Linked DNA regions of Homo sapiens. The protein of the gene in region 1 purifies or fractionates together with the protein of each later gene. This does not show direct contact. Each region holds a gene or a part of one and is shown in the gene's direction. Other genes may lie near its edges. The genes, in order: DYRK1B, KIAA0232, PPP1R3F, ZNF516, AKAP11, LZTS3 and LPIN2.

Region 1 (4,473 bases):
ACTTTCATTAAGCCTTTTATCACATTTCCTAAACCCGAGTGTCTTAGCCCATTTTATGCAGCTATCACAGAATGCTATAGACTGGGTAATTTATTTATTTTTATTTTTATTTTTATTTTTTTGAGATGGAGTCTTACTCTGTCACCAGGTTGGAGTGCAGTGGTACGATCTCGGCTCACTGCAACCTCCAGTTCCTGGGTTCAAGCGATTCTCCTGCGTCAGCTTCCCGAGTAGGTGGGACTACAGGTGTGCGCCACCACACCCGACTAATTTTTGTATTTTTAGTAGAGATAGGGTTTCACCGTGTTGGCCAGGATGGTCTCAATCTCCTGATTTCGTGATTGAGCCACCTCGGCCTCCCAAAGTGCTGGGATTACAGGCGTGAGCCACCACGCCCAGCCTTAGACTGGGTAATTTATAATGAATGGAAATTTATTTGGCTCCCAGTTCCAAAGGCTGGAAAGTCCAAGATTGGAGGTCTGAATCTGGCGAGGGCCTTCTTGCTGTCATCCATTGGCAGAAGGGTGAGAGCAAGATAGAAAGGGGGCATAATCATCCTTTTAATCAGCAACCCACTCTTGTGATAATAGCATTACTCTATTCAGGAAGGCAGAGGCCTCATGACCTGAATCATCTCTCGAAGGTCCCACCTCTCAACTCTTGCATTTAAGGGTTACGTTTCCAACACATGAACTTTGGGGGACACACTAGAACCATAGCACTGAGTTTTACTTGAATTAATAATGAAAACATCTGGTTTAAAGAGCACACAAGAGAAAAACAGCCCAAAGCCCTGTTGTAGACATTAGTCCTTTCTCCTCTTTAGGCCAACTGCATTGACTCCACAGCCTCAGCCGAGGCCGTGTTTGCCTCCGAAGTGAAAAAGATGCAACAGGAGAACATGAAGCCGCAGGAGCAGTTGACCCTTGAGCCATATGAAAGAGACCATGCCGTGGTCGTGGGAGTGTACAGGTGAGCAGGGGCCCAGCAATACACCAAGACAGACATCTCTGTCCCTTGCACCCCGAGTGCCATGATCCTGGGGACCCTCCTTCATCACCTATCTTCCTCTCACAGGCCACCCCCCAAGGTGAAGAACTGAAGTTCAGCGCTGTCAGGATTGCGAGAGATGTGTGTTGATACTGTTGCACGTGTGTTTTTCTATTAAAAGACTCATCCGTCTCCCATGTCTGCTGCTCATTCCTCCCCTTGACCTGCTGACACAGGGAGCACGCACCCTTGGTCAATTTTGCGGGGTTGGGTAAATTCTCACTCGGTCACAGAGCGCATGCTCCGTTTCTAGCTGCCTTTGCGCAGCGGCAGCCTGGATTTCGGTTCTTGGGTGGGATTGGTAGCTCGCTGCGCATGCGTGCAGGTAAGCGGCCATCTCGCGCAGGCGGAGTGTCAGTGTGGGTCACGTGAGGGGAGCGGAGAGGGAGGGATGGGGGCGGAGTCCAGGGCGTGGGGGGGCCGGTTTGTTGTGGTCGCCATTTTGCTGGTTGCATTACTGGGTAATCGGGGCCCTGGCTTGCCGCGTCCGCCGGATACCCTCAGCCAGTGGGCAGGTCTGAGCTCGGGCTCCCCGAGCAGTTTGAGTCCCCTTGCCCGCTCCTTCAGGTAACGGCGCGGGGACGGGTGGGGCGGCAAGCGGTCGCAGGGAGGTGGGCAGGACGGGATCCGCCCTGCTCCCGTCGCCGTGAGACTTAGCACGAGGCCAAGGGAGGAGAGGAGGGGGGTGGCAGGCAGGTGCGGGCCCTGCCTGGCTATTCATAGTTGAATTCCTGGAACCGGCCAAGCCCGAGGAAGCAGTTGCAGGAGGGAGGCTGGGAGGGGGTAGCCGGGCCCCACTCCCGCCCTTTGTTTGGGCTCAGCTCCGCGGGCCGCTTCTTCGTCGCCTAGCAACAGCTGCCCTAGGCTGTGATTGGCTGAGCTCTTGGCACCAGCGACCAATGGTACAGTTGTTGCCATGGCAGGTGCCGATTGCCAAGCTCAGTCGGGCCCCGCCTTCCGGTCTCAGCAGGCCCAGGAGGGCCTCCTGGGTGGGGGGCGGGACGCCGGGTCCCTAGGGGCTGGTGGTCACTCAGGGTGGGGCGTGTCGCCCCTCCCCCGTCCACCTGCTCTACTCTTCCCCCGCGTGCCCTGGGCTGACCCTTGTCCCCTCCTCTCCCCGCCCCCGGTGGCAGTGGCGGCTGCTGTTGTCACCCACCGGGCCTCCTGTCCCGCTTGCCCTCCCCGCCGCGGGGCCGGCCGGGCCAGAGACAGGCGGTCGCCTTTTCAGCGCCGCCACCGCCGCCATGCTGGCCGCTCGCCCACCCCACTGGGGGCCCCACCGCGCCCCAGCCCCCCGTGGGCCCCGCGCCAGCCCTGACCCGGGTAGGGGGTGGGGGCTGGGAGAGATGATCCTGGTGTGGGAGGGCCCCGGAGAAGAGGTGGTTTTTTGGGGGAAGCTCCAAGGGTGGAGGAGTCGTGGAGTGGCAAGGCATGGAATAGGAGAAAGGGATTTGACATGGGGGAGAGAGTGGCCCATGGGGAGAAGATTTTTGCTGTAGCTGACAACTCTGGGAGGAGAGAACCCTATGTGATAACTTGGGGATTTGACTTTGAGGCCCTCTAGGAGTGGACACAGTTGTGGAATGACCCTGGTATAAAGAGGGGTGCCTGGAGAAAGGTCTGTGGTAGGAATATTAGGGTGTGTGTGTGTGTGTAGGGGGGCAAGGAAGCAGTGTAGGGGAGAAAAGGATGATCACTCTAAACTGTGGGAAGAGACACCTCCTCCTTCTCCCATCAGGAGGAGTGGGCCTTGATTGGGATGGGATATTGGAGTAATATGGGGAAGAACCCTGTTGTGGTAGGGGGAATTGGGATATGGTACAGGGAGACTACCTGGAAGGCTGGTTCCTAATATGGAGGACCTGAAATAGGGAAGCGGTCTTGGCATGATATGGAGAGGGTCCCCTAGGAAAATCGTGCCCTGGTGGATGAGAATGCTGTAGAGATAGGACTCTGTTCTATAGAGGTTCTCAGATAACTTTGGTGTGGTTGGGAGGTCCCCAAGGACGCTGATGTGGTTTTAGGGCTGCAGAGGACTCTGCTGTGGTTTGGGAGGGGAAGACTCATGTGGTTTGGGAATCCTAGAGTTCTCTGGGTTGAGGGAATCTACTGAGAAGGATAGATCTTAAAGTATTGGCCCTGGCTGTGCTACGGGCTGAGATCCTGATGTTCAGGGAAGACTACAGAAAGTGGCATCTTGTGTTAGGGGCCCTGGGGAGGGCCACGAGTAGTGAGAAAAGAATGAAGCCTACTCCTCTGCATACTGTCTGTGGTTTCTTTTTTCTTTTCCTCCTCTGAATTATTGGTGTCTTCCTGTCCTCCTTTCCCTGTGATGGCTCATATCGACCCCTGCTTGGCCCCCAATCATTGTCTTTTATGTGTTCTCTTTGTGCTGCCTTAATCATTTACTTGATCATTATTTGTCGAGGGACTGCTGTGCCATCCCCCCCCACCTGGCTACCACTTCTCTGCCCCTTCTCTTCATTGCTATCTGCTGCTCCGTTGTGCCCTTTTCCTCTTCTCTCTGTGCCCTGTCTTTCTCATGTCCACTCTTCCCCGCCTGGCACTATTCACATATCCCCTTGTTCCATGTTGTTTTCCCACTTCCTGTCTGCTCTCAGGTCTCAGCGGCGGTGGCAGCCGAGGTGCAGGATGCAAGAAGGCGCCCCCCGGCCGGGCTCCCGCTCCAGGCCTCGCTCCCCTGCGGCCCTCTGAGCCCACCATGGCCGTCCCACCGGGCCATGGTCCCTTCTCTGGCTTCCCAGGGCCCCAGGAGCACACGCAGGTACGCGTTCAGCTGGCTCCTCACCTGCGTGGTGGTAGGGGGAGGCTGGGGATAGAAAGGTCTCCAGACCAAAAGGTAGTGTGGTTGCCCAAGACATTCTTCTGGGCACATAATGGGTCCCATGGGATTGGAAAATAACAGAGGAGTTTTCAGGCAGAGTCAGGGTTTGGAGAGGCTGGGTTCAAATCCTGACCCAGTGGTTAAATTCCTTAGGTTCTCCATACTTGAGTTGGAGAACTCAACTCATTCTGTGAAATGGGGCCAATAATGATACCTACTTCACAGGGTTGTTGTGAGGATTAAATGAGTTAATGGTATGCATGTAAAACACTTAGAATGGTGCCTGGCACATAGTAAATACCCAATAAATGCTACTAAGAAAAGTTCAGAGTGAAAGATCTGGATTGGGTGAATTTGGAGGGGGGTTGAGTCTAAAGGGTCTTGAGGCCAACAGGCATGGGTGGTGAGGGCAAAGCTCTCCCAAGGCTAGAGGCAGTGAAGGCAGTGACATGCAGAGCTTGAAGCAGGATGAAGTGGGAGGTCCAGGGGCCAGATCCAGATCCAAGAGCCTTGGGGTGAAAGAACTGTGCAAAGAGTTGGTGGGAGTATGGGTTGAGGCCCAAGGGATGAGGGTAAAT
Region 2 (3,897 bases), on another chromosome or scaffold:
CCGGGCACAGTGGCTCATGTCAGTAATCCCAGCACTTTGGGAAGCCAAGGCAGGTGGATCACCTGAGGTCAGGAGTTTGAGACCAGCCTGGTCAACATGGTGAAACCCAGTCTCAAATATTAGTTGAGCATGGTGGTACATGCCTGTAATCCCAGCTACTCAGGAGACCGAGGCAGGAGAATTTCTGGAACCCGGGAGGCAGAGGTTGCAGTGAGCTGAGACTGTGCCATTGCACTCCAGCCTGGACGACAGAGCGAGACTCTGTCTTATTAAAAAAAAAAAAAAAAAAAAAAACAAGAAAGAAAAGAAATGATTATCCATGTTCACAAGCAAGAACACTGAGTTCCCACTGTTTACTGCAGAGGGAACATAGGCAATCCTTGACCTGCCAAACCTGCTTCCTAAAGATACTTTTATTTTTTTGTTCGTAAATAGTCTTAAAATAATCTGCATTATAAACAGACTTCCCTATTATACATTTTATTTTAATCTTTCGAACCTCTGAAACCTAAGAAAAAAATAGCATTTCCTTGGTTTGTATAGACCTGTATTATCCAGCACAGAAGCTGTAAGCCATGTGTGACTACTGAGCACTTGAAATGGGGCTGGTTCAAACCGTGATGTGCTGTCAGTGGACAATTCTCATTGGATTTCAAAGACTATATATAAAAAAAAGTAAAGTATTAAACATTTTAAAGTATTGATTACATGTTGAAATGATAATATCAGGAGTTTAGTTAAATATATTACTGGAGTGCATTTCACCTATTTCTTATGTTTTTAATGTGCCTACTAGAACACTTAAAATTACATATGAAGCTCAAAATATATTTCTGTTGGTCAACTCTGACATAGACTGAGAAAGAGAATCAAGTTCAGGCCCTTTGAAAACATGGCCTTTTACCACTTCATGTGTGACCTTGAGCATTGCCTCTGAAACAACAGTCCCCAGTAGCCAATGTGACTTTAAATTCTGCCCTTTGCAATCTGTTCTGCTCTGAAATCTTCAGTGGCCCCCAGTTTCCTAGCAAATCAAAAATACTTTCTCATTTTCAAGCCCCCTGAAACCAGCCTCCCTGGCTTTTTCTACGCTGCATTTCTGGTGATCACAGCTCTAGTTAGTTTTCCATTCTGTGAGCATAACATGTGTGTCTTGGTGTCCTCACACAGGCTCTCAGGCCTCACAGGTAGTACTCACTAAACTTGTGGAATAAATCTGGAATTTCAAGGCTCAGTTGTGGCCCACTTTAATTGTTGTAGGCCTCACCGACATCCTCTTTCTGAATACTTGAATGTGATCATTCCTACCCTTTCTGAGGGCCTGCTTCAATGCCAGGCAGTATGCTAGCAGTTACGTAAGAAGCTGCTGTTCCAACTCATTTTGCATATTAATTCCTTTACTCCTCACAACCCTGAGAGGTAAATATTACTAGCTCTATTTTGTAGGTGAGGAAACTGAGCTATGGAGAGGTTAAGTAACATGCCTAAGGTCACACAGCTAGTAAAGCAGGCAGAGCCAGGATTTGACCTCAGAGAATGTGGCTTCAGAGCTCATACTCTTGACTGATTGCTACCGAGCTTTTTAACCGCATATATTTTCAACGCTCACAATAACTTTGGGAGGTAAGTCATAGGATCACCATTTTGCAGTTGAGGAAATAGTCTGAAGCAGTAAATAATGAGCTTAAAGTCGCAAGCAATAGTGACTTAGCTGAGATTCAAATTCAGATAATGCTTACTGAAGAGACTGCATTCTTTCTTCTACTATTTGTCCTTTTTGACTTCTTAATTAAAATGCAAACTTTGAAGATAAAAACTGTCATCTTACATATTTTCTCAGTAATCTTACAGTGCGTATCACAGTGCTGAGCAAAATGGTGCTTGATGCATGGGACTAATCTTAAGCATATTTTACTGTATTATAAATTATTGTAAAGTTAATGATTCTTGGATGATGTGAATGTTGACACTACTAAAATGAAATATTCCATTCTTCTGGTTGGTAATGTTGTTTTACTGTATCTAAAAAATCTGCATACTCGTGTTTTGAAGTCTTTACTCTGTTTTTCAGGTACTATGAAGCATTTCCACCACTTTCTGAGAAACCAGTTTGCCTGCAAGAAATCATGACTGTGTGGAACAAGTCTAAAGTCTGTTCTTACTCTAGCTCTTCTTCATCATCCACAGCCCCACCAGCTAGCACAGATACTTCCTCTCCTAAGGACTGCAACAGTGAAAGTGAAGTCACCAAGGAAAGAAGCAGTGAAGTACCCACCACTGTGCATGAGAAAACCCAGAGCAAAAGCAAAAACGAGAAGGAAAACAAATTTAGTAATGGCACAATTGAAGAAAAGCCTGCTTTGTACAAAAAGCAAATCCGACATAAACCTGAAGGAAAGATTCGCCCTCGCTCGTGGTCTTCTGGCTCCAGTGAAGCAGGCTCAAGTTCCAGTGGGAATCAGGGAGAATTAAAAGCATCCATGAAGTATGTTAAAGTAAGACACAAGGCACGAGAGATTCGAAACAAAAAAGGGCGGAATGGGCAAAGCAGGCTTTCTTTGAAGCACGGTGAAAAGGCTGAAAGGAACATTCATACTGGAAGTAGTAGCAGTAGCAGCAGTGGTTCTGTCAAACAGCTGTGCAAGCGGGGTAAGAGACCTTTAAAAGAAATAGGGAGAAAAGATCCTGGGAGCACTGAAGGAAAAGACCTGTACATGGAGAATAGAAAGGACACAGAGTATAAAGAGGAGCCCTTGTGGTACACCGAGCCAATTGCTGAATATTTTGTTCCTCTGAGCAGAAAAAGTAAACTAGAGACCACATACCGAAACAGACAGGATACAAGTGATCTGACATCAGAGGCAGTGGAAGAATTGTCTGAATCAGTGCATGGTCTTTGTATCAGCAACAATAATCTTCATAAAACATACCTCGCAGCAGGTACTTTCATTGATGGTCATTTTGTAGAAATGCCTGCAGTTATAAATGAGGATATTGACCTCACTGGGACCTCATTATGTTCTCTACCAGAGGACAATAAATACCTGGATGATATTCATCTATCAGAATTAACGCACTTCTATGAAGTGGATATTGATCAATCCATGTTGGATCCTGGTGCCTCAGAAACAATGCAAGGAGAAAGTCGGATTTTGAATATGATTCGACAGAAAAGCAAAGAGAACACAGATTTTGAGGCAGAATGTTGCATAGTGTTAGATGGTATGGAGTTGCAAGGGGAACGTGCAATATGGACAGATTCTACCAGCTCCGTAGGTGCTGAGGGCTTATTCCTGCAGGACCTTGGCAATCTGGCTCAGTTTTGGGAGTGCTGTTCATCCAGCTCCGGTGATGCTGATGGGGAGAGTTTTGGAGGAGACTCTCCAGTTAGACTCTCTCCCATCTTAGACAGCACAGTGCTCAATTCACACCTGCTTGCTGGCAATCAAGAGCTCTTTTCAGATATTAATGAAGGATCTGGTATAAACTCTTGTTTTTCAGTGTTTGAAGTGCAATGCAGTAATTCTGTTTTACCATTTTCTTTTGAAACACTCAACTTGGGAAATGAAAATACAGATTCTAGTGCTAATATGCTTGGGAAAACACAGTCTAGATTGCTAATATGGACCAAAAATAGTGCCTTTGAAGAAAATGAACACTGTTCTAATCTTTCAACAAGAACTTGTAGTCCATGGTCCCATTCAGAAGAAACACGTTCAGACAATGAAACATTAAATATTCAGTTTGAAGAATCCACACAGTTTAATGCCGAAGATATTAATTATGTAGTTCCTAGAGTCTCGTCAAATTATGTAGATGAAGAACTTCTAGATTTTTTGCAAGATGAAACTTGCCAGCAAAACAGTAGAACTTTAGGTGAGATTCCTACATTAGTTT
Region 3 (3,897 bases), on another chromosome or scaffold:
ATGGGGATCCAACCTGCTATCTGAGTTGGCAGCCTCAGGGGAAACCAGAATAACTGGAGTTGAACGGGACAAGTCAGGGGCATCTTAGTTTTCTGTAGAGTGAGGAATTAATGTGAACGTGATCCTCTTTTATGCCACAGAAAACTTGGTAGGGCATTATGGTTAAGGACATGGGCCTGAGGCCACGTGCTAAGAAAGTGGCAGAGCTGGGATCTGAGCCTGTGTGGTCCTGCTCTAGTGCTCCAGCTCTTAGCTACTGTACCAGGCTGGGTGATGCATTTTACCAGCAGGGCAACACTGGGCAAGTTGCTTTCCTTTCAGAGCTTCAGTTTCCCTCAATGGAAATTTGGAGGGGGTTACTGTTAAGTGCTTTATAGGTACTTTTCAAATATTTCTTTGATCTGCTGAACAACTCACTGATGTAGGTATTATTATCCCCTCCTTAGAGATGAGGTAACTGAGGCACAGAGAGGTTAAGTAACTTGCCCCAGGTCACACAGCTGATAGGTGGCAGAGCTGGAATTGTTCAAAATTGCATATCCTAACCCTTTATTGAGTTGTGAAATCAATTTACTGGGTTTCAACAAGCATTAAAAAGAAAAAGGAAATAGCATAAGAAATGCCAGTGTATCACCACATGCAGTAAAGGTAAGTATTGTTTCACTCGAAGAACAACCATTTTTCAGTTATTTATATGTCTGTTTACACGTGTGGGTGTGCTGGGTTATGATGTAGAATGGATTTCTTACTATGGGTCGTGGCCAAAGAATGAAGTCATGGCTGTTGAAGAAGCTCATGGCACGAGAAACTGCTCTCCCTCTACCCCACTGGATCACCCGCAAGTCCCAGAGTTGAGGCTGACACACTTGTTGGGGAAGGCAAAGCAGTGCCCCACATAACTTGGTGGCTTTCACAGCCACCTTCAAACCCTGTTCTTTTCAGAAAGCAGATGGCTCAGGGTAACTGCAATTCTGAGTATCGTGGGGCAGGTTTCTGAAGCCACTCATCCCCCCGGAAAGTCAGCGTTATCTTCAGGTTGACTACATGGGAGCCGGGGTCTGCTGAGTTTCCCTTTGGGTTTCAGTGCCTGACCCACTTTGGGCTGGCAAAATTCTTTGAAAACATGAATGCTGGGGGTGCTCCAGAGGACTCGGGTGGTGGTGGCAATGGCAGTCTGTGACTGCTCTGAAAGTCTGCTTTGCTTTTCTCCACAGGGCTTGTCAGCCCTCACCCGCTCGCTTACTCTGTGACTGGCGAATCACCTTTCTTGGCTTTCTTGGCTGGCCTAGGCCGGGGCCAACACCACCTCTTTCCAAATCCTCACCCTCTGGTCTCCTCGGGGCCTATCAGCTTGGCAGCCATTGTGTTTCCTGATGGCCGGAGGAATTTGCACGCCCAGGAGACTGGCGTGCAGGCCTGAGATGGCCCCTTTTAGTCGACACCAGCTTGACTAGTGCTCACTAGCACCCAAATGATGCATGTCCAAGATTTTCCAGATCTGTGTGCCCTGGCCCCTATGGCTCACTGCCCTTGAGGGGATGCCACGTGGTACTTGTGGGGCTGGTGCCAAAAGAACAGGTTTCCTTCTTGAAAACGAGCAGGCATACTGCAGGTACAGTTTTGTTCTTAATCTTCTCCCTCCCCATTTTTCTAAGAACCCCTCTTCTCTGTTACCGATCAGTGAGTCAGTATACATTTGTACTTGATTTCTCTTACTATCCTCATGTTGATTGAAGTCATAGCTGCCCTTGAGTTTTTACTGTGAAAGACGGTTCAAAGATAACTTGTTTCTTTTTAAGCCCACAATTTCAAACTCTCTTCAAAGTGGAGCCCTCCTGGAGTGTTTGTTACCAGCGTGGTTGTGTAGTCAGTGAGTGTAGAGATGCAGTTCCTTGAGTTTTAGTTTTTGCATTTGTAAAAAGGAAGGGTGTTGTTTTGAAGGATAGATGTGAAGGTTTTCAAATGCCTTGGTGTGTCAATGAGAGGGGCCCATGGTGGAGGAGGTGAACAATACATGCTTGTGCTTTCTGCTTTCATATCTGACTTTGGAGAACGACTTGTTTGCTTCTGTCGATGTTGTGGATCTTGGGATTGGCTCAATGGCGTGACCTGCTTTTTGGATGTTCTCGCCCTCCTCAGCCATGGAAAGGGTGCTCTGGGGGCTGAAGGATTGATTGTGTATTTGTTTTTCTTTCTCCTTCCTCCAACTGAATTGTGGAGTCCTTTACCTGCTGGCTAGCTGATTCCTGAGTGTTCTCCTTTTTCTGTCTCACATCTATGACTGCAGTGGCTTTTAGAAGCCTGTTTGTAATATATGTCCGGACTAGGCCAGATGGAGGAGAAGGCTTGCCTGCTACTGCGCACAGGTGGGAGGGCTGGCTTTCTGTCTGTCTGTGGGCCTTCTTGAAGAGGCTTGGTTTAGAAGATCCTAGGAGGAGGATGTTTTCTGTCATGAAGGACTATGGTAACAAAAAGAAGTAAGTTAGTGCAGCCTGGCAGAAATTGTGTTGAAACAAAAGTCCAAAGACCTGGATTTTAGGACCACGGAGGGGATTGGTGTGAGACCAAGCTGGTTTGCTCTGAATCTCTCTTTCTCATCTGTGATGTGTGGGAGGTGGCAGCTGGGCTCCCAGAGTCACCCACCCTAGGCCCTGTAGTATTCTGATTCAAGTACCTCTGGTGGGATTTGTGAGTCCTAGACAGTAGAGAAAGACAGACGGTCCCTTCTAGACTCTAGATCCGTATATATGGTTCAAATGTTCTCCCCGAGGGTGTTTATAGAAAGCAGTTCTTGCAGCCATTCTGTGTCTAGTGGCCTCCTAGCCACGCATGTCCCAGGCCCATGGAGGTAGGGAAATGGGGAATGAATATGTGGGCAAAGGCAGGTCCAAAGAAAAGCCTGCATGAAGGAGGAGGGAGGGATCTTGTCTAGTATTGATGCCTCCCTCTATCTACTTCTAGAAAGGATGGAGATGGGTTGGGTAAGACCCCAGTCTCCCTCATCCAAGAAGCAGCAGCTGACTGGGTAAGAGCCAAAAGGCCTGGGTTGTGATGTGAAGTGTATGACCTTGAGCCATTTACTCAGCCTCTGTTTTATCCTCTGTAAAATGGAGACAATAGTACTGCCTGCTTCAGAGGATTACAAGTACCTGTCTCATAGGGTGATTGTGAGGATTGAATTAACACATGTTGCCCAGGCACCGTGGCTCATGCCTGTAGTACTAGGACTTCGGGAGGCTGAGATGGGAGGATCGCTTGAGTCCAGGAGTTCACGACCAGCCTGGTCAACGTAGGAAGACCCCATCTCTAAAAACAAAATACAAAAAAACAAAAACAAAAACCAAAAAACCCCAAAAACTTCTTTAAAAAAATGTGAAGCACTTAGAACAGTGTGTAATGCCATAGTAGGTACTATGTATGGGTCAGATGGTGATACTCGTTTCTGTGAAGGTAATTGGTTATGGGTTTTCAAAAAGTTTCAACCAGGCCGGGCACGGTGGCTCATGCCTGTAACCCCAGCACATTGGGAGGCCGAGGAGGGTGGATCACCTGAGGTCAGGAGTTTGAGACCAGCCTGGCCAACATGGCGAAACCCCGTCTCTATTAAAAATACAAAAATTAGCTGGCTGTGATGGTGGGTACCTGTAATCCCTGATACTTGAGAGGCTGAGGCAGGAGAATCACTTGAACCTGGGAGGCAGAGGTTGCAGTGAGCCGAGATCATGCTATTGCACTCCAGCCTGGCGACAGAACGAGACTCCATCTCAAAAAAAAAAATTTTTCAACCATTGTCAGAAGTATCAAGAATGTCACATTGCCTCTTAGGAAGAAAAAGGTGTGGGCATTCGCCCCAGCTCCTCTCAGGTTTTAGTCAATGCTTCCCTCATTTACCTTAAT
Region 4 (3,897 bases), on another chromosome or scaffold:
CAGGTTATGAGTGTATACATAGATAAATGACTTTTCAGTAATGCGTATTTTAACTTCGCGTTTTAGTCATTGGTCCCCGTGGGAGGAGCAGGGGGACATGGTCTTCTCTGAAAATGCTGTGCTCATTCAATGAACACTTTTGGATTTTTTGAATAATTTGTCATGTGAAACCGGGTTGACCCCATCGTGACCCCTGGTTGACTTCTTTTAAGTTTAATTCTCGGTGTTCTTTTTTTATTTTTATAAATACAGATTTTACTGGTTATGTTCCAGTAATACTCTGTCTACTTTTTGGAGCACATGCTGGACAAAATATTGGGCTAGGACTATGGGTTTTTTTTCTTTTCACTTTTAAGAGAAATATTCTTAATATTTGGAAAAGCTCTTGGGCCTCACTCACCCCATTGATTATGATGGTGGTCACCTGATTCATAGTAAGCTAATCCAGTAGTGCTTTTAGAAATCAAGAAGTTGGAAAGATCAAATGATTCCCATCATAAATTGGAAGGTACTCTTTTTTCAGGCTCATTAAATTTTAGAGACTACTGTTTATGTCTTAAAGACATTATATATATTTTTCTCTATGTGTAACTTTTTGAGAAAGTTAATACAGACCTCAGCTGATTCTATAACAAGACATGTATCATAGTTGAATGTAACAAACAGTTGGTGATAGAATAAATAGGATATTTCAGCTTATTGAGAGAGGACAGAAATTTATGGCTCGACAGAGGCATGAAACATGGAAGAGCCCTGTAGGTGTATGTGGGTCACTTTCCGTAATCCCAAAGGACAGTATCTTTCTATCTAAAAACACCAACTTTTCACTCACAACAGCTGCCTTTAATGGTCTAGTGTAGCAACAAATTACTAATTCATGGATATTCTTTAAGGAGAGAGAGACCGTGTTCCATTGATTTAACTACTCTCAAAACACTGTGATTTGTGGGATTTGGCCCAGGTCTTTCACAGGGCTAGCTTGGAAAAGAAACTGGGTATTTTGAATCTCATATTTAAATCTGCAGCATTCCTTTCTTTTTCTGAAAAAATACACGCAACTTTGGGAAATGCTTGCCTTTCCTGTTACTAAAAAGATTACTTAGTTCTTTAAGTGTTAGGTTATTTTAAATTCTCATGGAACTCTGATGGGATGATTGGTTAACACTGTTAGAGTGTCTGTGTGGGAATTGAGGAACGAAAGATCACAGTGGTTCTTACAAGCAGCAGCCAGCCTGCCTGTGGGAGCACAGTTGAAATTAGAATTCAGATCTATGCGACCATTCCAGTAATACCCAGTTGTGCCATAATTTTGCCCGAACATTTTCTTTGACATCTGGGAATTGATTTGAATGCTGTTTCTGGATCTGGAAATAATTTGCATTATTAGATTAAGTGAAAGAAACTCCTCTCCTTTTTTTTTATGGAACATGTTTCGTCAGTTGAATGTTGCCATCTATTCCTCTGGAAAGTGTTCTGATATTCATGTTACTTTTATCCCCACATAAGACTTGGTCACAGCAGCTCTCGTTATTGACTTAAAATAGTAGAAGTGCAAAATTATGGAAAAAAAGTCAGTCATTGGGAATATGTTACTAGATTTAAATCCTCCACTGAGAAAGAGACGTGGCATGGACAGAAAGTCTACTTTTGGACTTCATAAAAAGTTAATATTTTTAGTAAGAAAGAGGGGTGAAAGGGCATCTAATTGGAGTTTGTAAAAATCAACATTTCCAACATTCCCAAACACAAGTAGGCTCAGGGAGCTTAGAAACCATCACTAAGGAAAAACGAATATTGCTTTGCAAGGAGACATACAAACCTTCAGTGTATGGGCCAAAATAGAATTCTGCTCAGAAAGCATTTAGGCGACTTAGGAATAACAGAAGCATGCAGAGAGGCTGCACATCTCTGGAAGATTTGCTGTCAGAGTTCGTGCCATCCTGAGAAGTGCCTGGACTGGGATGCCTGGTGCCCAGGCCATGGCGGATGCTCTGAGGTGCTCATAATGCACAAGCGGTGCCCCGTTGAGCTGCATATCATTCAAGACTAATTTCACTACTCCCGCTTTTCACCATTTCTTGTCGTGCTAATATCTGTCATGTAAAATCCATACTCCATCCTGTTGAACCCACCCTCACTTTTTAGATACTCACTGCGACTCAATAGATGGGACACCCTCAAGTTTTAGAGGATGTTGTGGGAAGTTACAAGTACAGTTGGCCCTGTGTATCCGTGGATTCCACATCTTTGGATTCAAGCAACCACAGCCTGAAAATATTAAAGAAAAATAGATGTTTATATCTGTACTGAACATATACAGGCTTTTTTTTGTTATTCCCTAAACAACACAGCAGAATTTATAGAGCATTTACATTGCATTATTATAAGTAATCTAGAGATGATTTACAGTGTACGGGAGGATGTGCGTGGGTTACACGCAGGCATTTACACCAGGGACTTGAGCATCCTGGATTTTGGTATCGGGGAGTCCTGGAATCAGTCACCCCTGTCCCACAAAGGACCATTGTGTTCAACTGTTTTTGATCAACATAATGGCAAATTGTATGACTCAATAGAATAAAAAAAGTGCTTGGAACAAGTGCCTTGGTATTATATGCAATTTGAAGAATCAAGGAAAGAGTCTTCAAAGAAAAAAAAAATATGGTCAAGGGAAGGAAAGGTAATTAAAGGAGGAAATGGCTCTACCTTCAGAGTGTCTCACGTTTCCCGTCCCCTCGCTGGCTGCCTCCCTGCCGCCCAGCAGCCCCGTCCTCAGAGCCCATCTTCTTTCCACTGTCACCAGGCGCACTGAGGCTTTTGCTGTAAGGTGTTTGCTGAGCACGTGCTTGGAGGCTGGCTGGCTGTCCGTGCTGGTGCGCTGGCTGTGAGGAAGGCCAGGCTGCAGTCATGCGGCTGGGCACAGAGGTTCAACAACTGTCCTTCTTTCTTTCTGATAGAACACAGACAGCAATTAGAATAGCTTAGGGAGGGTGAGAGACGGTATGTGTGTGTGTGTGTGTGTGTGTGTGTGTGTGTTTTAGACAGGTCTTGCTCTGTCACCCAGGCTGGAGTGCAGTGGCACAATCTCAGCTCCCTGCAACCTCCGCCTCCCGGGCTCAAGCCATCCTTTCACCTCAGCCTCCAGAGCAGCTAGGACTACAGGCGGTCACCACACGTGGCTAATTTTCGTATTTTTTTGGTAGACATGGGGTTTTGCCATGTTGTCCAGGGTGATCTTGAACTCCTGGTCTCAAGCAATCCACCCGCCTCAGCCTCCCAGAGTGCTGGGATTCCAGGTGTGAGCCACTGCACCTGGCCTGGAGGATGTGTTTACCCGTTGAAACAGGATTGAGGGTGAATTTGGCCAGCGGAAGGGAGAATGGAATGAGGGGGTGAGCTGGGAGGGGTGTCTGCCTGTGCGGCCAAGCCTGCTGGGTGTGGGCAACCTTTATATGGTACTTCTTCTAAGCGTTTCTTCAAGGTAGAGCAGGAGGAGCTCTCACAATACCTTCGCGCACTGACCTTGCAGCTGAATCCACTCGCGATGCTGAGTCTCTCGGGGACTCAGCGGTGTCCTGGCTTGGACGCAACACGGGCAAAGCTCTCTCTGAAGCCAAGTCATGGGTTGGGAGGAGCGCTTGTCCTCACACAGTGTTCATCATGGGTCCCACGAGAGGCTCAAAACGATTCAAAGAAAGAGGTTGTGGACCAAGGAGGAGAGAAAACGAGTGAAGTGCGTTCATCAAGGGAAGTTCCAAGTGTAGGCAGGAAATAGCATCCAGTTCAGCTGGGGAAGGAAAGCACACACGGCTGGGAACAATTTCATGGCAAACGCCACTCCATGGCCTGGAGCTGTGGGATGTCCTCATTCTGAGGGGGTCTTGGTGGCATTGGGGC
Region 5 (3,897 bases), on another chromosome or scaffold:
CTAAGGAAGAGTTGACAGCCTCTCTAGTTGGCCTACCAAAATCCTTAACAGATTCTTGCTTGTTTGAAAAATCTGGATATGAAGAAGATAATGAGTGTCACGTTACACCAGAATTGCCTAAGTCTCTTCAGCCTTCCTCACAAAATCACAGGTTTTACCACAGCACTGGCAGTTTAAATGGATATGGTTGTGGAGACAATGTTGTTCAAGCTGTAGAACAGTATGCCAAAAAAGTAGTGGATGACACTCTAGAGCTAACTCTAGGATCTACAGTGTTCCGAGTGTCTGAGACCACAAAATCAGCAGACAGGGTCACTTATGCAGAAAAGTTGTCACCTCTTACAGGTCAAGCTTGCAGATACTGTGACCTTAAAGAACTCCACAATTGCACTGGAAATTCATCTCAGCACTTTTTCAGACAGGGTTCTCTCGCCAGTAGTAAGCCAGCTTCTAATCCAAAATTTAGCAGCCGCTATCAGAAATCTAGGATTTTTCATCTCAGTGTCCCTCAGATTCATGTTAATCTTGATAAGAAGGCAGTGCTTGCTGAGAAGATAGTTGCTGAAGCCATTGAAAAAGCTGAGCGAGAGCTGAGCAGTACCAGCCTGGCAGCCGACAGTGGGATCGGACAGGAGGGTGCCAGCTTTGCTGAAAGCCTTGCCACAGAAACCATGACAGCAGCTGTCACAAATGTTGGGCATGCTGTTAGCAGGTAAGTTTCACGTTTCTTTTGGTTGTTAATGATAAATTAAAAAGATAAATGTGATCCTATATGTCTTAGGTCCTGTTCATAAAGGAATGATTATTTTTAACCCTACATAAACAAAAGTTTTCCCTGTTGCATTTATGTATTGTTTCATATCCTACACATGACTTTAATATATTTTGGTCTCCTGATCCCTTTTGAGGGAAGGTGTTATCCATTTACAGAGCTGGAAAATGAGGGTTGGAGAAAATAATCACCTTATCCAAGTTCATAGAGCTATGAAATAGGTAAAGTTGAATTAAATAAATAGCTAGAGAATTTTATATAGTAGTCCCCCCTTATTCTCAATTTTGCTTTCCTCAATCTGAAAATGTTAAATGGAAAATTCCAGAAATAAGCGATTCGTAAGTTTTAAGTTGCATGTTCTGAGTAGCATGATGAAGTCTCACACCATCTCACTCAGGATGTGAATTACCCCTTTATCCAGTTTATCCATACTACATGTGCTGTTCACCTGTTAGTCACTTAGAAGGTATCTCAGTTATCAGGTCCACAAACCTGGTATGTACAGGGCTTGATGCTATCTGCAGTTTCAGACATCCACTGGGTGTCTTAGATCATATCCCCCATGGATAAGGGGGGACTATTCTATAGTAAATGTAGAATATTACTATATTAATTTACTATTCTGAGATTAAATTTTTGTACACCTTTCTTCATTCACAAGGGTAAGTTTTCTTATAAAGACCATGGTTAAACTACTCTGAAGAAGAAAGTGAAAATTCTTTACATACTTACACCATTTCTCTTGATTGGTTCACAATCTAAGAGGACAGTTCTTTCTGGTAGTCCTACAGTGTCCTGTTTTTCAGTAGCTATCTCTTGTGCTCAGTGATTCTTTTTTTTTTTTTGAGATGGAGTCTCGCACTGTTGCCCAGGCTGGAGTGCAGTGGCACAATCTCAGCTCACTGCAACCTTTGCCTCCCGGGTTCAAGCGATTCCTGTGCCTCAGCCTCCCTAGTAGCTGGGATTACAGGCACCCACCACCACGCCCAGCTAATTTTTGTATTTTTAGTAGAGACAGGGTTTCACCAAGTTGGCCAGGCTGGTCTTGAACTCCTGACCTTAGGTGATCTGCCCACCTCAGCTTCCCAAAGTGCTGGGATCACAGGCGTGAGCCACCGCAACCAGCCATGCTCAGTGATTCTTTAATAACAACTTAGTTACAGTTTTTCAGTTTAAACCTTCTTTGTCCCTGAGAAGATATCAGGACCAACTTGTGTTATTAGTTGATAGGATGATATTTGTAAGTCCTGCTTGAAAGAGAAAATGCTTTAAGTTGAGGTGGAATTTAATTGAGTCACATGATATTCCAGATTTTTGAGTAGCTTCTGTTAAAGCCATGACATGGTCTGCCTCTTTTCTTATCCATCTTAAAATAGGGAGATATAGCTTGGCCAGGATTCTTGAATCCAATTGCTCCATAGCGTCTACTTGAGATGAGAGATGATGTAGGTTTCTGGTGAACTAGGAGAGGTCTCTATTTGCCCTAATCAGGCAGCCTTCTTTCTCCTAGACCAGGGGTTGGCAAACTACAGTCTGTGGGCCAATGTGGCCTACTGGTTGTTTTTGTATGGACTGCAAGCTAAGAACAGATTTCATGTTTTTTTTTAATGGTTGAAAAAAATCAAATGATATTTTGTGATGTGGAAATTATATGAAATTCAAATTTCAGTATTTATAAATAAAGTTTTATTGGGACACCACCATGCTCATTCAATTACACATTTCTGTGGCTGCCTTTGTGCTATAATGGCAGAGTTGAGTAGTTGGGACAGAGGCTGTATGACCAGCAGTGCCTATGTACTTCCTGTTTGGCCTGTATTAGTTCATTTTCACACTGCTATAAAGATACCACCTGAGACTGAGTAATTTATAAACAAAGGAGGTTTAATTGACTCACAGTTCTGCATGGCTGGGAAAGCCTCAGGAGACTTACAGTCATGGCACAAGGCAAAGGGGAAGCAAGTGTTTTCTTCACAAGGCAGCAGGAGAGAGAGAGAAGGGGGAGCTGCCAGACACTTTTAAAACCATCAGCTCTCATGAGAACTCCCTCACTGTCATGAGAACAGCATGGAGGAAGCCGCCCTCATGATCCAATCACCTCCCACCAGGTCCCTCCCTGGGGGTTACAATTTGAGATGAGATTTGGGTAGGGACATAGAGCCAAACCATATCATGGCCTCTTACAGAAAACAATTGCGAACCTCTGTCCTAGATCCACATTTTCGTTTTCACTACATACCAGTTCCTAGTATGATAATAAACATAATAAATTGTTAATAAATATTCTCATGAATAGGTAATAAATTAGGCCTTTTTACAATTGAAATAATTTTCCTCATACAGGTTGCTTCAGGCTATTTTACTTTTTACTCCTCCTCAGTTCAGTCCTGTCTGCCCTACGGACCCATCCATCCCCCTTTCCTCCCACCCTCATGGGAAGAAAAGAGACTGTCCTCTAAAGTTTTTAAGACATCACTCTCAGGGGCTAGCAAATGCCTTTGTTATTGATTTTCTCAGTAATTTCCACTTTTCCTTCTTAGAGTTGGGTGAGTAGATAGCCCCTAAAGTTCTTCCTGTAAGCCAGTGCTGTCCAATTTCAGCTTTTTATTAAGGCTGGAGTAATTATTTTCCTGCTTCTCTTCTTAATAATTGTGCTAGGGTTCTGTAAATACTGACTAAGGAAAGCTGACTCTAGTGTGTAGAGTTTACGTTTAACATTTTTTATTTCTAAAGTTAAATTTGTCTTTCAAACTTGAAAGGAGATTCATTCAGATGGATTATTCTTTAAGGTATTATTTCACCTGATGTCCCTTTTTGTTTGATTCATGAACATGACCATAAATATTTCACAAACTGTAATGAACAGAGAGGTGGCATGTGAATGCAATTGGGAAATTATGTGATAGTACATTTTTATTCATTTTTGTTTGTTGTTGTTTGTTTGTAGAGATGAGATCTCACTATGTTGCTCAGGCTGATCTTGAATTCCTGAGCTCAAGCAATCCTCCTGCCCTAGCCTCCCAAAGTGCTGAGATTGCAAGCATGAGCCACCGTGCCTGGCTGATAGTGCATTTTTAGCCAACAAAACGATTATATTCTAAGCTATCATTCCGAGCCAAAATAAC
Region 6 (3,897 bases), on another chromosome or scaffold:
GCTCTGTCACCTATGCTGGAGTGCAGTGGTGCGATCTTGGCTCACTGCAACCTCCACCTCCTGGGTTCAAGCCATTCTCCCGCCTCAGCCTCCTGAGTAGCTGGGATTACAGGCATGCACCACCACACCCAGCTAATTTTTTTGTATTTTTAGTAGAGGCAGGGTTTCGCCCTGTTGGTCAGGCTGGTCTCGAACTCCTGATCTTAGGGGATCCACCTGTCTTGGACCTCCCTAAGTGCTAGGATTACAAGCGTAAGCCACCGCGCCAACCTGTTTTTTTTTTTTTTTTTTTTGATGTAGTCTCGCTCTGTCTTCCAGGCTGGAGTGCAGTGGCATGATCTCGGCTTACTGCAACTTCTGCCTCCCGGGTTCCAGTGATTCTCCCACCTCAGCCTCCTGAGTAGGGGATTACAGGCGCGCACCACCACGCCCAGCTAATTTTTTGTATTTTTAGTAGAGACGGGGTTTCACCACGTTGGCCAGGCTGGTCTCGAACTCCTGACCTCAAGTGATTTGCCTGCCTTGGCCTCCCAAAGTGCTGGCATTACAGGTGTGAGCCACCGCATCCGGCACTTGTACCACTTTTCTGAAACCATTCTGACATAGACATTGGTGATGTCTCGAGACCAGCTCCTAAATCCGCAGCACACTCTCCAACCCCAGTGTTACCTGGCCCTGTTATTTTTAACACTGGAAACTGTCCCCACATTCTTGAATCCCCCCAATCTTGGCCTTCAGGGCCCACCTTCTCCTGGCCTTCTTCCTGCTCCCAGAGTGCCTTCCAGACTTCTGGGGCTTTGCTCCCTGGCTCAGTGCTGGCCTACACCCCCAGCACCCTTGAAAACTGATGATCTCAATCTCTCTCCATCTAGTGCTTTTTTTTTTTTTTTTTTTTTTTTTAAGGAAAGAGTCTCGCTCTGTCACCCAGGCTGGAGTGCAGTGGTGCAATTACAGCTCACTGCAACCTCTGCCTCCTGGGTTCAAGGGGGTTCTCGTGCCTCAGCCTCCCAAGTAGCTGGGATTACAGGAATGCATACCGCACCCAGCTAATTTTTGTATTTTTAGTAGAGATGGGGTTCCACCAATTTGGCCAGGATGGTCTTGAACTCTTGGCCTCAAGTAATCTGCCCACCTTGACCTCCCAAAGTGCTGGGATTACAGGCATGAGCCACCTTGCTTGGCCTCCATTTAGTGCTTGAGAGGTATCTTCCTCTGGTGTTTCCCAAAGCAACTATTTTCCCCAAGCAGTCTCCCCCTATCATGTTAACAGTGTCACACGCACGCTGGTGCCCAGTCCAGCATTATCCCTTGTCCCCACCACCTGACCTCATCTGTATGAAATTTTGCCAGTTCTTTCCCAAACCCTGCCCAGGCCTTCCTACTGGTTCCAAGCCTCAGGCCTTTCAGGCTTCATCCTCCCAGTCCCCAGCTGCTCCCCACATTGCACCCAGAGGTGGCAAGAGAAGGGTCCATACTTAAGGTAGGAGGGGGTTGCAGGGCTGAGGCATAGGGGGCTGGAGTATGCTGGGGAGTAGAGGCAGAGCAGGGACTAGAGTGAGGCCAGAGAGGGACCCAAGGCACAAAGGGAAGGAGGCTGTCACCCTCAGGGCTGTGTACTTGCTGTTTGTGCCCTTCATTTGTGCCCTACGTGGCTCTCTGTCCTCATCCTAGTCCTGGCCCTTGCTTATGGGGACAGACGGGTCCAAGGGAGGAGGGTGGCGAAGTGCTCTTCTCCACACCTGTGGGGACAGATGCTGAGAATGGAATTCTACAGAGACAGTGGACAGGCTTGGTAGTGAACTTTCCAACAACCTAGAGCTCTCATTCCTGGTGTGGGGGCCAGAAGACTCCCGAAGGACAACAGTTTTGTCAGGTGCCCTTGGTCTGGGCCAGGGACTCAGCATTAGAACTGGGCATCTGGGTAGAAGACGGTCTGTGGGGCCATAGGGTGCCACGTGGGCCCCTTAACTTGATAGGGAAGGAGGGCTCCCTGCCTGGTTTATGCAGGGTGTAGTGGGAAAAGGCCTGAAGGGCGCCCTCTCCCATTTCCCACACACTTATTTGAGGGTCTAACCCGAGGCAGACACTGCCTGGTGCTCCTGCCCGGCTGCATTATGCAGATCTCTGGGGCAGGTGTTCCCAGGTGCGAACTTGAGACAAAGGAACGAGGAAGCACGGCCTCCCTGAGCACAGGTAACCCGAGGCCTGGCTCCCCCTGCGCTTGTGGGCCGGCCTTGGGGGAGGGGGACGCGCACCCACAGAAGGACTCAGAGGGCTTCACGGTAAGCTGAGCAGGGTCAAGGTCCACAGGGAGCGGGAGAGGGTAGTAATCCGGGAAGTCTTCCTGGTGGCAGTGAATTCTTTGCGGGGTTCGGCAGGCGCAGGATCCTTGGGGCCGCGCACCCTGCAGCGGCCCCTCCCCTCCCCTCCCCCCTCCCACCTGTGGGAAACGCAGGCCCTGAGAGAGGCTCCGTCAGTGCCAGCAGCTGGCGCCACTGCGTCCCCTGCCCCGGCCTCAGCCAGCCCTGGGACCTCTGCGGAGGACTGATCCCGGGAAGGGGGCCCTGTCTTCCCAGGGCCCCGGTGCGGCCGAGCTGGGAAGACCTTGGGGAGGGCAGGCCTGCCACCTACTGCAGCCGCGGCCCCCGTCCATCCGGGAGGGACAGGCTGTGCCCTTGGCGGCGCCCACCCGCGACCCAGATGTGCGTCGCCTACCCACCCTCCCCCAGACCCCCGTTTCCTCAGGCGCTCGCCGCCTCGGGGCGCCTGGCACGCGGCAGCCCCGCAAGGTAGGTCCTTCATTCCTCCCATTTCGCAGAGGAGAAAACTGCAGTCCGGGATGGCTCAGTCGGCCCCTCCAAAGTCGCGCAGCTGGTTCGGGCCGAGCCCCGACTGCGAGAGTGAGGCACATGGCCCCTGCAGACCGGGCCTCGGAGGGTCCCAGGCTTGAGGACCCGTCGGCCCCTCAACCCCTTGGAAAGGCAAGGAGAGAAGCCTGCGCTGGTAGTGAGCTTCCACTTCTGCCCTGACTGCAACACTTAGGTTAGGGGGCTGGGAAGGACCCCCACCCTCAATTTTTGGATAGGGGTGTATTTCTCTCCCTCCCCTAATTTCTGAGGTTGGTTCCCTGTTGGATTCAGGTACTGCTCTCCCCTTCCAACCCCATTTCCCCAGCCCATGAGGTTGGGATATTAGGGTCCCAGACCCAAGATAAAGAACCCCAAAATTCTGGGGTTGCAGCAAAGAGTTGAGAGGGTCACTGAGCCTGGGAAGCTCATGGCGGAGGTGGGGCTAAGGCAGAAGTTTAGGAATGGAACGCTGAGCTGAGCTGAGCTGAGCTGAGCTGAGCAACGCTGGGGGCTATGTGCATGGAGCCCTGGGGGTTGGGCTTTATCAGGTGGGCAACAGGCAGCCCCCATTCCCAAGTTCTCTCTTTTATCCCAGCCTTATTCCTTCACCTTGGATGCCTGGGAACTTTTTGTACCCATTGTAGGGAAGGGGACACTGAGGGGCAGAGCGGTGCCGGGTTGACTTGGCTGGGGTGGTGGGAATAGGAGTAGGGTCTTACCTATCTCTGCCTTCCCACCTGTGCCCACAGTGCCCCCCTGGCTTAGTCATGGCGAAGCTGGAGACGCTGCCTGTGCGCGCTGACCCAGGGCGGGATCCTCTCCTGGCCTTTGCCCCACGGCCCTCCGAGCTTGGACCCCCGGACCCCCGCCTGGCCATGGGCAGCGTGGGCAGTGGGGTGGCCCATGCCCAGGAGTTTGCCATGAAGAGCGTGGGTACCCGCACAGGGGGTGGGGGCAGCCAGGGCAGTTTCCCTGGCCCCCGAGGCAGTGGCAGTGGGGCCAGCAGGGAGAGGCCGGGCCGCTACCCCTCAGAGGACAAGGGTCTCGC
Region 7 (3,897 bases), on another chromosome or scaffold:
ATCTACAGTTATTTTTTTTCTTTTTCTTTTTAGTAGAGACAAGGTCTCGCTCTGTTTTCCCAGCCTGGAGTGCAGTGGCACACTCATAGCTCACTGCAGCCTTAAACCCCTGGGCTCGAGTGATCCTCCCACCTCAGCCTCCTGAGTGACTGGGACTACAGGCACGCACCACTGTGCTCAGCTAAGTTTTAAATTTTTTTGTAGAGACAGAGTCTCGCTATTTTGCCCAGGCTATTCTTGAACTCCTGGCCTCAGGTGATCCTCTCGCCTTGGCCTCCCAAAGCACTGGGATTACAGACATGAGACATTGTGCCCACTCATCTGCAATTCTTAAAAATTCTCATCTTTTAGTGTCAACTGTTGGCTGTAAATGAATAATATAGTGAAAAAAAGTATAGTCATAACTGTTTATTCTGCAATCAGATTCTCAGGTGTTATGTTAATTTGCCTGCTTTTCCTTTCCTACAAAATTATCTTCTTTCTCATTGATTTCTTGTGAAAAGCAAATGAGATTATGAATCTACAGTGTTTGTTTACAAAGGACCTGGTAAGTCCTCTTAAATACTAGTTGGTGTCATTTTTATTATTATTATTAAAGAACTCAAGTGGAAGAAATAATTGATGCTCCCTTCCATAGAGTTTTTATATATGCAGGATAAAGTCAAGATATTCAGATTTGTTTCTTTTAATCTGTCAGGCTCAGCAAGACTGAAGGTTTCCCGACTTTCAAGTCATCGTGTGTCTTTGTTCTCTTTGCAGCACCTATCCCCAGACAGCGTGTCCTAAGAGTGATTCAGAGCTGGAGGTGAAACCTGCGGAGAGCCTGCTCAGATCAGAGTCTCACATGGAGTGGACGTGGGGCGGATTCCCAGAGTCCACCAAGGTACTAGGGTTTACTTGCCTGTGGAAAGTGTGTTAATGATTAAACAAGTGACGAATTCCTCTGCCCATAAGTAAAGGAGGCAATTTCTGACTGAGCTCTCATGAATGTAAATGATAGTGCCCTCATGTCATAAAAGTAAATTCAAAGTTAACATTTTTTGTAACATTTGGACTATATATTTGCAACCGAAGGATTTCAGTAGTATTTTGTGTATATTTCTATTTACTGAATAATAATGATTGTTAATTATTATAAGGACATTTTAAAAGGCATCTTAAACTGAAATTTTCACACTGAATTTTTATTTTTTATTTTTTGGAGACAGAGTTCTTGCTCTGTCACCCATGCTGGAGAGCAGTGGTGCAGCCACAACTCACTGCAGCCTTAACCTCCTGTGCTCAGGTAATTCTCCCACACCAGACTTTCAAGTAGCTGAGACTGCAGGTGTGTGCTACCACACCCAGTTAATTTTTTAGTTTTTATTTTTTGTAGAGACAAGGTCTCGCTATATCAGCTTGGCCTGATCGCAAACTCCTGGGCTCAAGAGATCCTCCTGCCTTGGCCTCCCAGAGTGCTGGGATTACAGGCGTGAGCTGCCATCCCCAGCCAACACTGAAATTTTAAACAAGAAATTGTTAAACCTTTTTTTCCAGCTCATAATGAAAGAAGAAAGAACTGAGAAGATAAATTTCTTGAGAGAGAAAATGTTTAGATCTTCTGTTGAATTTAGGTTTTTAAAATATACATTTTGCATATATTTGTGATCGAATTTAGACTTGCCACTTTTACACTGTTTTAACAGAGCCTTGATGTGGTCCAAGGAGGGTGAAATTTTCATTTAGTTTTCTCCCCCAAAATGAGTATTTTCTACTTCTTAGTAACTGAAAATTGTCAGTTTCCTCAGTCTTCTCCAGTATAACTTCACAGTAGAACATTTAACGTACACCTTTTTTTTTGAGATAAAGTCTTGCTCTGTCACCTAGGCTGGAATGCAGTGGTGCCATCTCGGCTCACTGCAACCTCCATCTCCTGGGTTCAAGAAATTATCTTGCCTCAGCCTCCCGAGTAGCTGAGATTACAGGCGCCTGCCACCATGCCCGGCTAATTTTTGTATTTTTAGTAGAGACAGGGTTTCATCCTGTTGGCCAGGCTAATCTCGAACTCCTGACCTCAAGTGATCTGCCCACCTTGGCCTCCCAAAGTGCTGGGATTATAGGCGTGAGCCACTGTGCCCGGCCAGAACATTTATAAGTATCATGATATTGAACAAAAGGCAATTATTAGTTTTTCTCACTTTATTATGGAATTTTTACATGTACAAACTAAGATACTTAATGAATGTGTTAAGTTAAAAATAGAATGAACACATTGCCAGCTTAGGAAATAGATTATAACAAATACTCTGAAAGTAGTTTAATTTTTAAACAATTTAACTTTTTTAGGTCAGCAAAAGAGAACGATCTGACCATCATCCTAGGACAGCTACAATTACACCATCAGAAAATACTCATTTTCGGGTAATTCCCAGTGAGGACAACCTCATCAGTGAAGTTGAGAAGGATGCTTCCATGGAAGACACTGTCTGTACCATAGTGAAGCCCAAACCCAGAGCCCTGGGTACACAGATGAGCGACCCAACATCTGTGGCAGAGCTTCTCGAACCTCCTCTTGAGAGTACTCAGATTTCATCTATGTTAGATGCTGACCACCTTCCCAACGCAGCCTTAGCGGAGGCGCCCTCAGAATCCAAACCGGCAGCTAAAGTAGACTCGCCGTCAAAGAAGAAAGGTAATCGTTTGTTTAATTTGGCTCCAGGTACTCTCAAATTAGATGGTAAATTATTTCAGTGTTCCACATAACGTGATGGCTGCCTCTGTATTTGTATTCACCAGTCGAAACCCGTCGCACTTTTTTTTTTTTTTTTTTTTTTTTTTTAGCTGGAGTTTCGCTCTTGTTACCCAGGCTGGAGTGCAATTGTGTGATCTCGGCTAACTGCAACTTCCGCCTCCCGGGTTCAAGCAATTCTCCTGCCTCAGCCTTCTGAGTAGCTGGGGTTACAGGCACACACCACCATCCCCGGCTGATTTTTTGTATTTTTAATAGAGATGGCATTTCACCATGTTGGCCAGGCTGGTCTCAAACTCCTGACCTCAGGTGATCTGCCCACCTCGGCCTCCCAAAGTGCTGGGATTACAGGTGTGAGCCACCGTGCCCAGGCCCGTCACTCACTTTCTTACAATTGCTTTCCATGGCGTCCCCCTGGAAAGTCCAGTTGGAGCAGGGCCTGACTTGCACACTGCTGTCTCTTGACTGTTGCTACTCAGTGGGTTCTTGAGAAGCATTTACTGAGAAAACAAATAATGAGTTGTAATCAATTGATGAGTAAAATTAACCACTTTATTGATAAGGTATGTCAGTAAAGTGAAGTAGAATCTTAAAAAATTAGAATAGAGAAAAAATGTTTTCACTTGAAACATCTTAGCTGAGGCTAAATTAGGTAGGTTTTTTAGCAGTAATATCAGATAAAAATCAATGCATACTAATTATGATTATGAGTATGTGCTTTCTTTTGCTGATTATTTCCCTCTAAAATAGGTAGAAGGCTAGGTGCAGTGGCTCACACCTGTAATCCCAGTACTTAGGAAGCTGAGGTGGACAGATCACTTGAGCTCAGGATTTCGAGATCAGCCTGGGCAACATAGTGAAACCCTGTCTCTATCAAACATAAAAAACTGAGCCTGGCATGGTGGCGTTCATCTGTGGTCCCAGCTACTTGGGAGGCTGAGGTGGGAAGATCGCTTGAGCCCTGGGGCAGAGGTTGCAATGAGCCAAGATGAAGCCACTCCATTCCAGCCTGGGTGATAGAGTGAGACCCTGTCTCAAAAATAATAAGAAAAAATAAAAATTACCTTAAGAAGTTATTCTAATCACCTGAGCCCAGGGAGGTCACGACTGCAGTGAGCTGTGATTGCACCACTGCACTCTAACCCATGTGACAGAGTGAGACCCTGTCT

Evidence for each region.
Region 2: the proteins of DYRK1B (region 1) and KIAA0232 purify together in Homo sapiens (affinity purification with mass spectrometry; 2 studies listed by BioGRID and IntAct, with this or other methods). This does not show direct contact.
Region 3: the proteins of DYRK1B (region 1) and PPP1R3F purify together in Homo sapiens (affinity purification with mass spectrometry; 2 studies listed by BioGRID and IntAct, with this or other methods). This does not show direct contact.
Region 4: the proteins of DYRK1B (region 1) and ZNF516 purify together in Homo sapiens (affinity purification with mass spectrometry; 2 studies listed by BioGRID and IntAct, with this or other methods). This does not show direct contact.
Region 5: the proteins of DYRK1B (region 1) and AKAP11 purify together in Homo sapiens (affinity purification with mass spectrometry; 2 studies listed by BioGRID and IntAct, with this or other methods). This does not show direct contact.
Region 6: the proteins of DYRK1B (region 1) and LZTS3 purify together in Homo sapiens (affinity purification with mass spectrometry; 2 studies listed by BioGRID and IntAct, with this or other methods). This does not show direct contact.
Region 7: the proteins of DYRK1B (region 1) and LPIN2 purify together in Homo sapiens (affinity purification with mass spectrometry; 2 studies listed by BioGRID and IntAct, with this or other methods). This does not show direct contact.

What each region holds. Positions count from the first base shown.
Region 1 is NC_000019.10:39,831,167-39,835,639, reverse strand, and holds the start of DYRK1B (dual specificity tyrosine-phosphorylation-regulated kinase 1B), read left to right. Parts: upstream 1-1,477; 5' UTR 1,478-1,617; intron 1,618-1,991; exon of another isoform or gene 1,992-2,294; coding exon of another isoform or gene 2,295-2,373; intron 2,374-2,460; exon of another isoform or gene 2,461-2,668; intron 2,669-3,671; coding exon of another isoform or gene 3,672-3,772; coding exon 3,773-3,835; intron 3,836-4,473. Other genes in the region: FBL (rRNA 2'-O-methyltransferase fibrillarin), read left to right, coding at 827-972, 1,078-1,102.
Region 2 is NC_000004.12:6,858,830-6,862,726, forward strand, and holds part of KIAA0232 (uncharacterized protein KIAA0232), read left to right. Parts: intron 1-2,071; coding exon 2,072-3,897.
Region 3 is NC_000023.11:49,275,917-49,279,813, forward strand, and holds part of PPP1R3F (protein phosphatase 1 regulatory subunit 3F), read left to right. Parts: exon of another isoform or gene 1-1,478; coding exon of another isoform or gene 1,479-1,612; intron 1,613-3,897.
Region 4 is NC_000018.10:76,436,207-76,440,103, reverse strand, and holds part of ZNF516 (zinc finger protein 516), read left to right. Parts: intron 1-3,897. UniProt on the Homo sapiens protein: Transcriptional regulator that binds to the promoter and activates the transcription of genes promoting brown adipose tissue (BAT) differentiation.
Region 5 is NC_000013.11:42,303,152-42,307,048, forward strand, and holds part of AKAP11 (A-kinase anchor protein 11), read left to right. Parts: coding exon 1-712; intron 713-3,897. UniProt on the Homo sapiens protein: Binds to type II regulatory subunits of protein kinase A and anchors/targets them.
Region 6 is NC_000020.11:3,166,883-3,170,779, reverse strand, and holds part of LZTS3 (leucine zipper putative tumor suppressor 3), read left to right. Parts: exon of another isoform or gene 1-2,282; intron 2,283-2,475; exon of another isoform or gene 2,476-2,789; intron 2,790-2,818; 5' UTR 2,819-2,909; coding exon of another isoform or gene 2,910-2,981; 5' UTR 2,982-3,042; intron 3,043-3,598; coding exon of another isoform or gene 3,599-3,616; coding exon 3,617-3,897. UniProt on the Homo sapiens protein: May be involved in promoting the maturation of dendritic spines, probably via regulating SIPA1L1 levels at the postsynaptic density of synapses.
Region 7 is NC_000018.10:2,936,466-2,940,362, reverse strand, and holds part of LPIN2 (phosphatidate phosphatase LPIN2), read left to right. Parts: intron 1-759; coding exon 760-883; intron 884-2,325; coding exon 2,326-2,671; intron 2,672-3,897. UniProt on the Homo sapiens protein: Acts as a magnesium-dependent phosphatidate phosphatase enzyme which catalyzes the conversion of phosphatidic acid to diacylglycerol during triglyceride, phosphatidylcholine and phosphatidylethanolamine biosynthesis in the endoplasmic reticulum membrane.